Linked DNA regions of Homo sapiens: all the other regions are linked to region 2. Evidence: fine-mapped QTL for protein levels in blood plasma. A gene starts in region 2. Each other region holds a variant in brackets. All regions are shown on one strand. Distances are from middle to middle. Region 1 has its middle 16 kb from the start of OLR1. Region 2 holds the start of CLEC1A (C-type lectin domain family 1 member A). Region 3 overlaps CLEC1A (C-type lectin domain family 1 member A). Region 4 overlaps CLEC1A (C-type lectin domain family 1 member A).

What was found. PIP is the posterior inclusion probability: the model's chance that the variant is causal. Protein levels are from antibody-based Olink assays in UK Biobank. Linkage for the fine-mapping came from a reference panel and not from the study's own genotypes, which makes the PIPs less certain.
Region 1: its variant is fine-mapped to the plasma level of the CLEC1A protein (UK Biobank, PIP above 0.99).
Region 3: its variant is fine-mapped to the plasma level of the CLEC1A protein (UK Biobank, PIP above 0.99).
Region 4: its variant is fine-mapped to the plasma level of the CLEC1A protein (UK Biobank, PIP above 0.99). The variant lies in the coding sequence of CLEC1A. If it changes the protein, the assay may bind it differently, which can mimic a change of level.

What each region holds. Positions count from the first base shown.
Region 1 is chr12:10,153,958-10,158,126 of GRCh38, forward strand. No RefSeq gene overlaps it. Among named protein-coding and RNA genes, the nearest start is that of OLR1, 16 kb to the right of the region's middle. The variant A/C (reference allele first, on the strand shown) is at 2,079.
Region 2 is chr12:10,096,613-10,100,781 of GRCh38, forward strand. CLEC1A (C-type lectin domain family 1 member A) reads right to left here and starts at 2,373. Exons shown (of 6, transcript NM_016511.4): 1 at 2,196-2,373. The coding sequence starts at 2,310.
Region 3 is chr12:10,076,072-10,080,240 of GRCh38, forward strand. The region is part of intron 3 of CLEC1A (C-type lectin domain family 1 member A); the gene reads right to left. Among named protein-coding and RNA genes, the nearest start is that of CLEC1A, 21 kb to the right of the region's middle. The variant C/T (reference allele first, on the strand shown) is at 1,790.
Region 4 is chr12:10,069,838-10,074,006 of GRCh38, forward strand. It overlaps CLEC1A (C-type lectin domain family 1 member A), which reads right to left. Exons shown (of 6, transcript NM_016511.4): 5 at 3,456-3,574; 6 at 1-1,676. The coding sequence ends at 1,496. Among named protein-coding and RNA genes, the nearest start is that of CLEC1A, 27 kb to the right of the region's middle. The variant T/G (reference allele first, on the strand shown) is at 1,637.

The sequences.
Region 1 (4,169 bases), 57 kb after region 2:
GGAGGTCCTGCGGAACAGAAGTGCCCCACTCCGAAGGGAAAGTCGACCCTGCTGTTCTCTTTGCGCGGCAGTCAGTGGGGTTAGAGTTATTCGGAAGAGGACGGAGAGCCTTGGGGGATGGGTGCGCATGGCCATGTTCCACTGGAACTGCCCCCAACGCAAAACAAACAAACAAACAACAACAACAACAAAAACCGGGCTCTATGCAGGCTGGAGTTCTGCCTCTGCCTGCTTGTAGGGCATATCCCCATGCCAGTTCGAATGTTTATGGGGAGTGTAGGATCTCTTGTGGCTGGAATCCTAGAGGTCCACAGCAAGAGTGGGCTGCCTTGCCAAGGGTTGTTCAGGGCCAGGAACTGGCACTGGTGTTCCAGAACCTGAAAGGGTTCCCGGTCTCCCTTTCTGTCAGCGGGAGTGGTGCTTCCTGTCTGCGTCTATTTGGCCATCTTGTCTCTGTTGACCAAATAGCTTTTTTGAGAAGAAAAATGAAATTGATAAATCTCTAGCTAAGCCGATTAGTTTTAAAAAAAAAAGATACAATTAACACTGTCAGGAAGGAAGTGGCAATGCTAAAGATTCTACAGATATTCAAATAATTTTTAAAAATGGTATGCCAATAAATTAAACAACTTAGATGAAGCTCATAAATTCCTTGAAAGTAACCACCAAAGCTCATTGAAGAAGGAATCCTTTGAACAGCTCAACATCTAAAAAAAACTGAATCTGGCCGGGTGCGGTGGCTCACGCCTGTAATCCCAGCACTTTGGGAGGCTGAGGCGGGCGGATCACAAGGTCAGGAGTTCGAGACCAGCCTGGCCAGCATGGTGAAACCCCGCCCCTACTAAAATACAAAAATTAGAGGGACATGGTGGCTCGCGCCTGTAATCCCAGCTACTTGGGGGCTGAGGCAGGAAAATCGCTTGAACCCGGGAGGCGGAGGTCGCAGTGAGCCGAGATGGTGCCACTGCACTGCAGCCTGGGCGACAAAGCAAGTCTCCGTCTCAAAAAAAAGAAAAAAAAGAAACTGAATCTGTAGTTGAAAACCTTACTACAAAGAAAACCCTATGCCCAGATGACTTCAAGGGTAAATTGTATCAAACATTTAATGAAGAAATAGTACTAATTCTAAACCAAATCTTCCAGAAAAATTGACATTGAGAAATATTTATCTGATATTCAAATAAGGCAAAGTCATAAAGAGAAAAGAAAACTATGTTTAAAAATACTGGCCATGGCCAAGCACGGTGGCTCACACCTGTAATCCCAGCACTTTGGGGGCCTAGGCGGGCAGATCACCTGAGGTCAGGAGTTCGAGACCACCCTGGCCAACATGGTGGAACCCTATCTCTACTAAAAATGCAAAAATTTGCTGAGTATGGTGGGGGGTGCCTGTAATCCCAGCTACTCAGGAGGCCAAGGCAGGAGAATCGCTTGAACCCGGGAGACAGAGGTTGCAGTGAGCCAAGATCGCGCCACTGCACTCCAGCCTGGGCGACAGAGCAAAACTCCACCTCAAAAAAAAAAAAAAAAGTACTGGCCAGGCATGGTGGGTCACACCTGTAATCCCAACACTTTGAGAGGCCGAGGCAGGAGGATCACTTGAACCTGGGACTTCAAGGCCAGCCAGGGCAACATAAGAAGAGCCTGTCTCTTTCTCTCAAATTAAAATAATTAGCTGGGGATGATGGTGCATGCCTGTGGTCACCGTTGTCCCAGCTACTTTGGAGGCTGAGGCAGGAGGATCACTTCAGCCTGGGAGGTCAAAGCTTCAGTGACCTGTGGTCGTGCCACTGCAGTCCAGCCTGGGCAACAGAGTAAGACTCTACCTCTAAAAAACCAGAACAAAATGAACAGAAACAAAAAACCCATAAATATAGTTGCAAACATTCTAAGCCAAATTTTAACAGAAATAACCCATAATATAATACATATAACAGATCTAATCCATTAATATAATGCAATCCTAAATTGTTTTAACCTTATATAATTAATGAGTGTAATTCATGTTAAAAGACTAGAAATTTTTAACCTAAAAAAAAACAAAGAAAATACTAGATATTTTTAAAATAAAAATGTAT[A/C]TATAATCATCTCAATAGATGTAGAAAAATATTAGACAAAATTAACACCTATTCCTGATCAGTCCTCTAAGAATGCAAGGAACAAAAGGGAACTTCCTAAAACTGATTAAGGACGTCTATGAAACATCTACAGTTTACACCATACTTAGTGGTGCAACACTGAATGATCTCTTCTCAAGATCAATTTCAAAATAAGGATATTGTTCTCACTACTTTTATTTCTCATTGAACGGGAGGTTCAGGCAAGGAAAAGAATAAAAGCATTGGAAAGGAAAAGATAGAAGTGCTTCCGCTGGCACACAGAATGATTATTTGTGTAGAAAATCTGATGACATCTACAAAAAAAGTTACTAGAAGAAACAAATAAGTTTATCAAGGTTTCAGAATATAAGGTGAATATTTAAAAGTCTATTATATTTCTCCATACTAGCAATAAACAGTTGGAAATTAAAATTATCAATGATAATTCCCATGTACAGTAGCGTCGAAACTATGAAGTATATATGGTAAGCTAACAAAATATGTAAAAATATCTGTAAGAGAAAACTGCAAAACATTGCTCAGAGAAATTTTAAAATACCTAAATAAATGCAGAGACATACTTTATTCAAGAGTCAGAAAAATCAATATTTTTAAGGTTTCAATTCTGCCCAAATCGATTTGTAGATTCAATGTAATCACAATCAGAATTCCAAAAGAGTTTTTGTAGAAATTAGTGAGCCAATTCAAAAATCAATATGGAAAATATAGTGACATAGCTCAGCCAATGTAACTTTGCAAAAGAAAAATAAATTTGAAGGACTGTCACTGCATGATTTTAAGATTTATTATAAAACTACAGTATTCAAAATAATGTGGTGGTGGTGTATAAATACGCAAATACAAAAATACAACAATCAGTGGAATAAAATAGAGAGTTTAGAAATAATCCCATGAATATACAGACAACTGATTGGTGATAAAGGTGCAAAAGCAATTTAGTAAAGAAAAATAGTCTTTTCGACAAATTTACATTTGTCGAATTAATCCCAAATAAATCATAGACCTCAGTATAAAACCTGAAGCTATAAAATGTCTAGAAAAAAATAAAGGAGAAAATTTTTGTGACCTTGAGTTAGTCAATGAGTTCTTACAAACCACAGCAGAATAATAAAAATGGACTTCATTAAAATAAAAAACTTCTGCTTTATGAGTATATTGTTCAAAGAATGAAAAGACAGGCTGGGCGGTGGCTCACACCTGTAATCCTAGTACTTCGGGAGGCCAAGGCAGGCAGATCACTTGAGGTCAGGAGTTCAAAACCAGCCTGGCCAACATGGTGAAACCCCATCTCTACTAAAAATACAAAAACTTAGCCAGGCATGGTGGTGGGCACCTGTAATCCCAGCTACTTGGGAGGCTGAGGCAGGAGAATCACTTGAACCTGGGAGGCGGAAGTTGCAGTAAGCTGGGATTGCACTACTCCAGCCTGGGCAACAGAGTGAGACTCCCTCTCAAAAAAAAAAAAAAAAAGACAAGACAAGAAAAACATTTCAAGATGCATATCTGATAAAAGGTTTTTATCCCAAATATATAAAGTTCTCAAACTCAACAGTAAGAAAAATAAACCAAGTAAAAATTCTCAAAAGATTTATACAGTTACTTTATCAAAGTTACCTAATACAGATGGTAAATAAGCTTATAAAAATTTGCCTGGGGCGGTGGCTCACGCCTGTAATCCCAGCACTTTCAGAAGCTGAGGTGGGTGGATCACCTGAGGTCAGGAGTCTGAGAACAGTCTGGCCGACATGGTGAAACCCCGTCTCTGCTAAAAATACAAAAATTAGCTGGAAGTGGTAGCGGGCGCCGGTAATCCCAGCTACTTGGGAGGCTGAGGCAGGAGAATTGCTTGAACCCAGGAGGCGGAGGTTGCAGTGAGCTGAGATTGTGCCACTGAACTCCAGCCTGAGCAACAAGAGCGAAACTCTGTCTCAAAAACAAACCAACAAACAGAAATTTGTAGGATACACAGATTAAAACTATGAGGATATACCATTCGATATCTACTAGAATCATTAAAACTATAAGACGAACCATATGAAATTCTGGCAT
Region 2 (4,169 bases):
GCATGCCCTAAAATCCCTCCTTAACTTGCCAGACTTACCCCTTTGCTAAGTTTCCCTCCTCCAACTCTACACCTACGCCATACATATTGCTTATAGTTCTCTAAAAATACAAAGCTACTGAAAACCTTCATGACTTTCCCTTCATACGTCTCTCTGTCTATAGTGTCCCCAGCCTCTCAAACACCCTCACTCCCGATTCCTTATTATGTGGAAGATGTTAAAATTAACTCAACTCCACAGTTGCTCCTTCTGTTAAGCCTTTCCTGAACTCCTCTACTTAATTAGGTAAAAATTAAGCCGAGAGCTTGGTTAAGCTCTCGGCTGTACTGTACATGCTTCTGCCATAACACCTTATTATACTTACTCCTTAGTTGAGAATTGTATTAGACTTTCAATTTCCTTATGAACAGGGACCATATCACATTGGACATTATATCCTCAGTACTAGGATAACATGACCCCAAACATAAGTTTGTGAAAAATGTATGAGGTTGTTGTTTTTCATTTTCACTATCTTAATTGTTTGGCATTTTTACTATCTTAATTGTTTGGCATTTTTAAACACAAACATAGTTGTTACGTCAATTGTTATTGACAAAAGTCTAGAAATTAAATGAATGTGTGTGTGATTTATTTTTATTAATTCTAAAAAATAAAAGTTGCCAGCTCTTAATGGTATCACATCATTATGTTGAATCTGAATCCTCCACATTGCCGAAAATTTCTGAGTGATTTCTGCTGTTATTTTTATCAGCGAAGGTATATCAGATATGTTTATCTAAGAAATAATTATACTTCTATGATGGTATTCCCCTAAATGTTTGTATTACCATAAAAAGATGAAAACAAGATCTCATATATGTTGCCTAAGATAACTATTTCCAGATGATTTCTTCCAAGACAATTCTTTGTAATCTCCACTTCTACTGTTTCAATATCCATTTCTTACAAAGAAGCTCCCAGATGTTGCAGCTAGTGTTTTATCTTGCTCCACCTCCCTCTCCACCCTTCAACCTCAGCAGAACTTATTTGTACATGCTGTTCTTAATTATGCTGATCTCTAGTCCTTGACAGAGTTCCTGGCTCCAGTCAAAGGTGGAAAATGAAGTTATATACAAGCTACTCAAAACCACAGCCGTAAAAATGGACTCTTCGTAAGTTTTTTTGGAGGAAAACGCTTTGTATCCTATTACACATATCCTGTGGCTACAAAAGCTGACATCCCTACTTTTGTCACTTAGCTTCATTTCAAAGAGGTTGGAAATCCCCAATGTCCCTTAACAGCTTACTGGGTAGTTTAGTTAAAAAAAAAAAAAGCCATATTAGTAGGTTTCAGGTGGAGGGTCATTTAATAAATAGAAATAAATAGAAAGTGAATGGAGGGTTTAGTAGGAGAAAGGAAGGAAAACTAAAAGTTATTTGATAAAGAAATAAGGAACAGGATAGTTTTTTTTTTTTAAAGGTATATCCAGATTTACAAAGGTGAAGAAAACAATGATATAATCAGAAGGGAAAGGGCATATTAAAACACAGGCACTGAATGAATGTTAAAATGTGGGATTCCTTTCAACATTCCATTTCTTAAGAACCTAAAGTGTTCCTTTCAGCAATTTTGTGTCAGTCTATATCAGATCAGACAGACATTCAAATATTTTACATAATTTATCATTCTCAGTACTCACAACCACCTTGTAAAGGAAGTTTTATTACTTCTATTTAATATTAAGTCAAGTTAATATGAATTAATATACTTAAAGTATTTAAAACACTGCCAGCACATAATGAGCCCTTTATACATGTTTGTGGCCGTTAATATTTTATAAATAAAGAATATGATGCTACCAGGATACTTAAACAACTCATCCAAAGTTACACAGAAGGAAAGTGGCATACCTGGTTTAGGACCTAGAACCTAGTCCTGTGTATATTACCATGTGAGTCCTTTTCACTAGAACTGAAGTCATATTTTAGCTTTAGATTGGCTGAGTGGCCCAGGAAATAAAATCCTTCTCTAAGTGTGGGAATTATGGAACTGAATATAACTGAAAAAAAAAAATCACTACTATGTCACAGGGCGAGTAATTGGAAATAAAATTATAAGATGCAAGCTAAATATCTCCATTTCTAGGAGGGATAGATCATCTCACACATTTCACAAGGACTGTGGTCTATTTGGACTCCAGGAGACAGGGTACCTGTGCGCCGGGGCTCTGGATGCCGAGTTGTGGCAGAGCCTTGAGAATGCAGGCTCATGGTGGTGTCCCCATCATCATCCAGCATGTCCCTCGTGCTGCTGTACTTGGCCTGCATCTGGATTCCTACAGCGGTGAGAGTGAAATGTGGTCGGATTGCCCTGGGCCGCCGGGCTACTGTGAGCTAGTTCAGGAAGCAAGGCACTAAAAGGCATTCCTAATGTTCTTTCCCAGCGAGGGGCAGGGAAAGTCTCTGACTGCAATTCCTGACTGGACAGGCCCAGCCCCTCTCCTGTGAGCTTGTACTCTGAATGCCAAATCAGTCAGGCTGAGGGGAAATAGCATGTGTTTTCTGTTTAGGCCGTCTCAGTCTAAACAGTTGTCAAAAAGTTGGCCTTTCTCAGGTCTTTTTTGTTTACCTGTTTGCATTTCTCATGTAACTTCACTGTAAAGAAGGCAAGAACTTACAATAGCACGGTGTAGCACTGTGGTTCCTTCAGAGTCTGCAGAATAATAATAACTTGGAAGGACACACATCCCTGTTTCTTACCCATCCTTTAGGGAGTCACTTAGTTTAACCTCTCTGTGTCTTTGTGAAAAGAGAAGAGATTATAGGACCTAGCCCCTTCCTTTCTCCAAGAACAGAGTAGTGGTCTTTCTTATAGTATCTGAACTTGATTCAACATTTTATAGCACATTTGGTACATTATGATCACGAGGAATTATACAATTTACTGGAAGTAAAAACTTTTAAAACTATTACTAACCACCATGTGGTTTGGGGAAGCCAGTTCATTTGTGCCTAAATCTCCTAAACTGAGAAGAAAATGTTTTAGGTAATGTGAAAAAATTCTTCCTGAATCAGTACATTAGAATTATATTCCCATCTTAGTCTGTTTGTGCTGACCTACAACAGGATACCTGAGACCAGATAAATTATAAGCAATAGAAATGTATTTCTCAGCATTCCAGAAGGTGGGAAATCTAAGATCAAGGCACTGGCAGGTTTGGATGTCAGGTGAGAGCTGCACTCTCTGTAGAGGAGGAAGGGTATTCTCACGTGGCAGAAAGCAGAAGGTCAAGCCAGCCAAATGCTACATGTAGCGTCTTTTATAAAGGCCTTAATACCATCCTCAAGAGAGAAGACTTCAAGGACTAATCATCTCTTAAAGGCCCCACCTCTCTCAATACTACCACACTGGCAACACCTGAATTCTGCAGGAAACACATTCAAACCATAACAAGACAGGTATCAGTAACAACCTTGTGCCTTTGGGAGGACAATTAACAATTTGCATCTACATTTCCTAAACTGAAAGACAAGAAGATTGTTTTAGATAATGTCTAAAAGTTCTTCCTGAATCTGTACAATAGACTTATATTACTCTACCAAAACTTTTCCAGATGTTAGGTGATAGGTGGGCAAAATCAAGCATGCTAAATATAAAGGAGTGTCAGAATGCTCCAGTTGGGGTAGCCAGACCATATAAAAGATCTATGAGGAAGTGCACATTGTGGATTCACATGTGTTTCAAGCTGTTTGTTGTTCATCAAATTATTCTAAATTTTTTAAAAATTGGAATTTTTTTTTTTTTAGATGGCAGATTGGAGGCAGTGTTAGCATGACTCTACCACTTGGAAGGACAAAATAGTGAGTAAAAAATTCTCACTGTGGGCCAGCCATGGTGGTCACGCCTTTAATCCCAGCACTTTGGGAGGCTGAGGTGGGTGGATCACCTGAGGTCAGGAGTTCGAGACCAGCCTGACCAACATGGCAAAACCCCGTTTCTACTGAAAATATGAAAATTAGCCGGGCGTGGTGGCGGGTGCCTATAATACCAGCTACTGGGGAGGCTGAGGTAGGAGAATCACTTGAATCCGGGAGGCGGAGGTTGCAGTGAGCCAAGATCACACCACTGCACTCCAGCCTGGGCAACAGAGCGAGACTCCATCTGAAAAAAAAAAAAAAAAAAAAAA
Region 3 (4,169 bases), 21 kb before region 2:
AAAAATACGGTATATACCAATATGATGTGGAGTCTTTTTAAGGAAAAAAATACTGAGGCAAGCCTGAAGTTAGAATGCTGAATCTCCATGTGTCACAAATTAAATTGGGCATCCAGGCCAGAGAAGTATGGGTAGTGATCGCAAATATAGGTGCCAAGCCCTGAGAGCTATAGTTTTAACCCTATGTGGATACATGACCTTGGGTCATTTAGAGTTAGGAACCTAATCCAGTCTCTTGTGGGTCTGTAGTGGGATGAGAACCCAAGTCATATCTATAACAATTTCTTTATTTTAAAAGCGATCTAGTTAACATGTTAAAATCTCAGTGGCTAATACACAGGTAGGTGTTATATTATTGTTTATATCTTCTTGTAAATTTGAAATATTTCATGAAGTAAAACAAAATATAAATAAATAAATAAATAACTTAGAAGGATATCTTTGTCATGTTATGAAAAACTTGCTGTGGAGCTCAATAGCTTTTGCACTCTCTCAGACAGGTCGGCTTGCTTCAGAATTCTACCAGGAGAAATGTAACAACCTGGAGAGACTCAAGCAAAAATGCAGGGAGCCTCAGACGTTCTAAAACACAGAACAAGAATGGGAATGATGCTTACCTAAAAGGATTATTGTAAAGAGTAAATACGTAAAAAACAGAGTCCAGTTTGTGCAGAGACTTATGCATAAAAAGCATTTAATAAAGGTCCGTTTCAACTATGGTCCCTGTTGTTGTGAGAACTTAGATGGGTGATATATGCTTGGAGTGCTGTGCTGAAAAAGATTATGAAGCAGCAACTGGACTCAGCAAGGAGAATCTTGGTTCATTCTGCTCTGGATTCAATAAATAAAAACTATGTAACTGCAATTTTGGTACAGTGTATTAATACCTCATTCCAGTCTCACATACAATGTTTTCTTAAATACCTTCAGTCTTCAGATATGATAAGTGACCCTCTATGTGCTCTATGTAAAAACAAGTCTCCTACTTGTAGGGGAATTAATAGAGAAATTTTCAATGAATGTTTAGGAGGAAGCAAGGGACAATTAGATCAAAAGGTGAGAGACTAAAGGACTGAGAGCCTTATGTGAAATAGGTAGTGATACTATGTAACTAAAGAGACAGAGATAGAGAAACTTCTTTACTTTCTTAACTTCAACTACCTAATATTTGATATACTATTACTTAAACCATTGGAGGAGGAAAATAGAATACAGATTAGAAGAAATTCATTTCTCTCTATATACATATAGATATAGGTACAGACATAGATATAGATAGATATACAGATACATATACCCTCCATTCCAGCCTAGACAACAGAGTGAGACCCTGTTTTCCCCACCTCTCTGCTCCCCCCAAAAATATATATTTTTAAAGGAGAAAAATGCATATTTTTGGCCGGAAAAACGGGTGGACTGAAAATGAACTGTTCTCAAATGTTTTGTCCATGGCATATACACCTAGGAAAAATAAAATACTAATTTCTAAACGGAACATGTACACTTTCTATGAACTCTCTTTACCTATAAATTACCATTTTTATATTATATAGTGCAATAAATGTTTATAGATATTTAGGATCAATAAACAATAATGTTCATATTAGCAAGGCCAATAACCCCAGGACGGGCATTCCATTTCATAAATACATGAAAATATGTCATCCAAAGAAAAGGCTAATCGTCTTTTTTTTTCTTATAGTCCTTTCTCTCTCCATTTCTCCTTTATTTTTGCTGTGTTTTGGGCAAAAGGAATGTAAGTCTGTGTATGTGTCTGGCCCAGAATTTT[C/T]CCTCATATATCTAACTCCCCAAACAGCATTCCTGGTTTCTAATCTTCCCCTTGTAGCCAGAGAATTCTTCTTCCTTTCACTCGACCACATCTCTATGCTTCTAGTTGTTTTGACCCCAAATTCTGGAGCTGTTTTTGAATCTTTCATTTCTCACACATCAATTTATATCCCATCATGCCATCATTTCCACAAACAATATCCTAGTTAGAAGAACCATCATATTTCTCCTAGATTTTAGTAACAGCCATCTCTTATCTGATTTCTCTGTTGCTATTCTTTCCTCTTCCAGTCTAATTTTAACAGAATGTAGATTAAGCCTTTAAAAACTTATGCCAGATCATGTATTTCCTCTGCTTAAAACCCCATAATTAATCCTCATCTGCTCAAAATAGTAGCCAAATCTCTCACAAAGGCACCTAATGCTGTACATTATCTCTACCTAGCCTCCTGTTAGTCTTCCACTCCAACCGCATGAGCTCCTCATTATTCCTGGAATATGCAGATACATTCATGTTTTAAGGCTCTTTTGTTTCCTGTTTTAACTTAAAGCTTATTATTTCTCTATATTACATGGCTAACTCCCTCAACTTTTCAAGTCTTTGCTACCATATAATCATCTTAATTCAGGATTTACGACAGCTCTATTTAAAGTAGCAACAGACTACCCTGGAATTCCTTATCCCTCTTGCCTTGTTTACCTTCATTTCTCATAGGATTGATTAATCTCTCATACATTGTATTTAGGTTGGCCGATCATTACTGTATACCTGGGACCTAGAGTTTCCCAGAATGTGGGACTTTTAGTACTAAAATAAGGAACGTTGGGGGCCAACTTGGAAATGCTGGTTGATATAGTTTGAACATTTGTCCCCTCCAAATCTCATATTGGAATTTGATCCTCAGTGCTGGAGGTGGGGCCTAATGGGAAGTGTCTCGGTCAGGGAAGCAGATCCCTTATGAACAGCTTGGTGAGTTCTCGCTCTATGAGTCCCAGGAGAACTGAGTGTTAAAAAGAGCCTGGCATGTCTCTCCCCAATCTCTTGCCTCCTGGACTCTTGTCATATTACCTGCTGCACTTTCCCCCATGTGTGGAAGCTGCCTGAGGCTCTCAGAAGAAGCAGATGCTGGCACCATGTTTCTTGTATAGCCTGCAGAATCATTAACCAAATAAAACTCTTTTCTGTATAAATTACCCAGGCTCAGGTACTCCTTTATAGCAACACAAACAGACAAAGACATTAGTCATCTTATGTTTTTCAATATACTTACTTCTACTACCCCACTAGAGTAAGTGGTCCATGAGAGTAGACATCCTGTGTGTTTTGTCAGATATGCATCAGTAGGCATTCAGTAAATACTCCAACCACACTGGTAGCAGTACGAACTAAATGCATAAATATCACTTCAGTGGGTGGATGGATGGATGGATAATGGGTAAGATGAGGGTAAGAAATAAAAAGTAGCAGATTAAAACTGAGAACTGACATCTAACCAAAAATATGTAAGAATTTTTTATGAGAAGCAGCATTAATATATTTGCATTTAGATTTTATATTTAAATTAAATGTAACTTATTTGCATAGCTTCTCTTTTTGTTTGTTTTTATATACCTAAATAAAAATTTGAAAGACCATTTGTGTTAGGAAAATCTCGGTTACCTTAAAAAAAAATTTTTTTTAGCCAGGTGCAATGGCTCATGCCTGTAATCCCAGCAGTTGGGAGGCTGAGGCGGGCAGATCACTTGAGGCCAGAGTTCAAGACCAGCCTGGGCAACATGGAAAAACCCCGTCTCTACTTAAAATATACAAAAATTAGCCAGATGTGGTGGTGCATGCCTGTAATCCCAGCTACCCAAGAGGAGATACGAGAATCACTTGAACCCAGGAGATGGAGACCGCAGGGAGCCGAGATCATGCCACTGCACTCCAGTCTAGGTGACAGAGCGAGACTCTGTCTTAAAAAAAAAAATTAAAAATAAAAGTAAAAATAAAAATAAAAATAATTTTTGAGATAGTATCTTACTATATTGCCTGGGCTGGTCTTGATCTCCTCAGCTCAATCTTCTAGCCTCAGCCTGTCAAGTAGTGGATTATCTTTTTGAAGATATGGCAACCAACAAAGGAAAGTATGCACACTGGGCTTTGTTAGAAAAATTTGTAAATAAATGCTGGGCACGGTAGTTTACGCTTATAATCCTAGCACTTTGGGAGGCTGGGGCAGGGGGAACACCTGAGGTTGGGAGTTCAAGACCAGCCTGCCCAACACAGTGAAAACCCATCTCTACTAAAAATACAAGAAAAAATTAGCTGGGTGCAGTGGTGCACACCTGTAGTCCCAGCTACTCAGGAGGCTGAGGCAGGAGAATTGCTTAAACCTGGG
Region 4 (4,169 bases), 27 kb before region 2:
AAGTGACAATCTAACAAAATGAAGTTTATGAAAATGAGCACCAATGTGTTCTTTCTATCATATGATTGCTACTATACGTCATTTTACCATGAGATAGATGTTTATGAAAAACAAAACTGAAGCACCTCAGTTTCCACTGTTGAAAAACAAAGATTTATAATGTTATCTTTTCTAGCATAAAACCCTCAAAATTGATTTATCAGTAAACCAATAAACTTGGTGGCTGTGATGGTGTCATTCCCAATGATCCCTGTTATATTTGTGCATGGAGTCGTCTCAAGAAAGAAGTGCCTCACAAAGGAGCAGCTACAAAGATGTCACTGTCTCTGTTCATTTCCCATGACCTGACTGGAAATCATGTGCACTAATGCAACTCAGCTTCCTCATCAACCATGTGTTGATGCCATAAGCTCACCTCAAAAGATTTCATTTTAGGAAAACGTTAAAACTGTTTTCTTGAAGCCAACACGTATTTCAAAGACATCTTATTTTCTCCAGATAATCATGTAATCAGTACTCTTGTAAATTCCCCAAAAACTTTCAGTAAGGCACAATCAAAATAATGACCGCTATCATATTTTGAAAAGCATTTCCATGCTGAATTTTCCCACCAACCATAAGTCCATTGTAAAATCACACACACTTCACAGTATTTACATTTATTATTATTAAATCTTCAGTACCTGAAAGGTATAAATATGGGTCAATGGAAGAAAATAGGAACTGAAACTATTACAGGTGCAGATGAAGAGGCTCACTTTTTTCTGGTCTTTAATCTCTCTGAAGGGAATATCGGGGACGGTAGTTCTGATATGAAACGGAGATGGGGATATATTTCTTTCCTGGGAGAAATTCCTATGGAGGGGAGACAATTATCAGAGTCTTAATGGACACAGGAAGGAATGCTTATAAGGCATTGAGATTTGAGATTCTCATATCAAGTGACATCCCTGTTGGGAAACGGCATGGACAAGGCAGATGGGGTCTTTACTGATGGATTGGGAAGGGACTAGTATGAACTGAAACAAACAAAAAGAATTCCTTGTGTATTTGCTGGTACAATCTGGGAAGTGACTGCCAATTTCTGATGGACTACTTGACTGTCAGAGAAAAGGATGTTACCTCAATGTATTTCCTCTACTTCAAAAAGTTTCTTATTCCACCAAGTGTAAGGAAGACATGAAAACAGGGAGGTGATATTAGACATTGAGAAGAAAGAGAGCTAAAAGTTATCTCTAAGCCAAGAAGGCAGATGACATTATGGGTTTCTGAGGTTGGTTGGTGGCATGTAAATAAGACTTCTTGTGACTGTTAAATACGTGCATAAACCCAAGCTCAGAAATGCTGGTGATCCTGAACAGGAAACACGAGAACCCATTTTGTACTAGTCAGAGAGATAGTCTTTCCTGATTATGTTCCATTTCCCAATGTCTCAACTAGCCCTTGCTTTGGCACCGCCTGGCTCACTCTGCTATTTGTAGTTGCAGAGGGCGAATCAGTCACCTTCGCCTAATGTTTCAGGGGGGACATGGAGGCTCTCTGGCTTCACCATTCCTGCCCTTCTCTCACAGACACAACGCTTCAATTCTTTGCAGTCCTTTGAGAAGATCATCCCATTAAGGATGGCCACACAGTC[T/G]CTGCTTCTTGGGCTGGTGACATCTATTATAATATGGAACCTTAAGAAAGGAAGAAAAAGTAAATTCAATCACGGTTTATTTCTAAAATAAAATATTAAATACCCATTCTTTCTAGAGTTATAAAATTATAGTCTAGATACCAGAATAAGTTTACCGGGAAACTGGGGTCATGTGCCTCTTTCTCTTCAGCCCCTAAGTTTCCATACTCATTCTTAGAAACAGCAGGTCACCCCAAACAGCAAAAACCATTTCTAACTAAAGCGAAGCTACGTGTTCTCCTCCAAATTTATATAGTGTTTCTGCCACTTAAAAAGTTCTCTACCTTCTCTGTAACTCAGTTTACTTAACTGTAAAATACAAATGATTACATCAAATATATCCTGTCTCCTGGGAGAATAATGATATATTGTATATAGGGAAGAATGGTGTCTGTTCAAATATGGCTTTAAATGTGATATATTTTGATAGAGAAATTACAATTTCCTCTTTCAAAGGATACTGATGTGGTTTGGATGTGTGTTCTTTCCAAATCTTAGTTGAAATGTTATCCCCAGTGTTGGAGATGGGGCCTGGTGGGAGGTGTTCGGGTCATCGGGGTGGATCCCTCATGAATGGCTTGGTGCCCTCTTCTTGGTGATGAGTGAGTTCTCACTCAGTTAGTTGATGCAAGATCTGGTGGCTTAAAAGGGCCTGGAACCTCCCCCCAGCCCCTTCTCTTTTGTGTTCTCTCTTGCCATTGGACATGCCAGCTCTTGCTTCGCCTTCTGCCATGAGTAAAGCTCCCTGAAGCCTCCTCAGAAGCCAAGCAGATGCTTGTACAGCCTGCAGGATTGTGAGCCAATTAAACCTCCTTTCTTTATAAGCTATCCAACCTCAGGCATTCATTTATGCTGATGCAAAAATGGACTAACACAGATACCATATGTACTCCTGTCTAAATGCTCACAGCATATGTACGACTAGTGTTTTATATTACCCCTTACATTTTCAGCAAATCTTTTCTCAGAGATTGTGTTTTTTAAAAGATGTGCTCCCTATTTTGCTGCACAGAAAGCCAAGAACTCTTATGCTATCTCTGGGTACTGACAAGTTGTGTGACTTTAGGCAACCACCATTACAGCCTGGACTCCTGGGCTTCAATTTACTCACTCAGGGAAAGATCTCTCTCTCTCTCTCTCTCTCTCTCTGTCTCTCCCTTCTCTCATCTGCAGTATGTCCCAGACACAAACTTCTGAAAGCAGCAAGAGAACTACCCTGATATTTTACTAATGCTATGTATCTGTCTCCCTCACTGGCTTATAAGCAGTTCAAAAGCAGGCACTGGCCGGGTGCGGTGGCTCATGCTTGTAATCTCAGCACTTTGGGAGGCCAAGATGGGCAAATCACTTGAGTCCAGGAGTTCTAAACAAGACTGGGCAACACATCATAATCCTGTCTTTCCAAAAAAGACAAAAAATTAGCTGCATGTAGTGGTGCACGCCTGTAGTCCGAGCTACTCAGAAGGCTGAGGTGAGAGGAGAGCTTGAGCCTGGGAGGCAGAGGTTTCAGTGAGCAGAGCTTGCACCACTGCACTCCAGCCCATGCAACAGAACAAGACCCTATCTCAAAAAACAATCAAACGAACAAACACACACACACACACAAACAAAATGAGGATGCACTATTGTTCAAATATCTTCAGGCATCCTCCTGCAAACACAGTATCCAGTACAAAGCAGAAGTTTGATTAATACTTGATGGACCAAATTCTTGAGCTCTATCACTCAAGCAAAATATCTTTGTTAAATGCCTTTCCCATAAAATATCCTGAAGGCTTACAGTTCAGAAGTGAAAGGGGTTCCATCCATCCACAGCCAGGCCTTGCCACTGTCAGGGCGCAAAAGCCCTGTCCAATAAGAGTAGAAAAACTCAGAGTAGCTCTGAGACGCGGCAAATTCCTGTGAAAAGCACATAAGAAAAGCTTTAGCTTTGGTGGCATGATTACTCACATGTACAGACATGCATGGGCCAGCCAGCACTTTTCTCAAAGCACACACAAGTCCTGCTTCACATTGATGCTCATATGCTTAAGAGAAAAAGCATCTATGCTGAGGCCAGTCAGAAATTTGTCCAGGTTTAATAACTTATTTTGTCTTAGTAAATATGGAACACATGTCGATATTCTGAAAGCGGAAATCACATCAACCAAGATTTGTTCCTGACCCATGGCTTTTAAGGCACAGAATTAAACATTAATGTTGACATAAAAATATGAGGGAAAGACTAACAAAGAGATGCAGAATGATTCTGGGACATGGAAGAATATGGAGGGAAAAGTGCAGGAATGAGGTAGTAACCGTTATAAATACCTGGGAAAGGAAGAAAAAAAGTAAAAGAAAAATTTGCAAGGATGATTTATGTCTTAGACTAGGAAGAGAAGAAAGAAATTTTTAAATTTCTATCTATAAATATTTATGTGCACACATGTGTATAGTCCTATACATGGTAATCCTTTTCCCAATATCCATATTTAACATATGTTTACATTTTAAA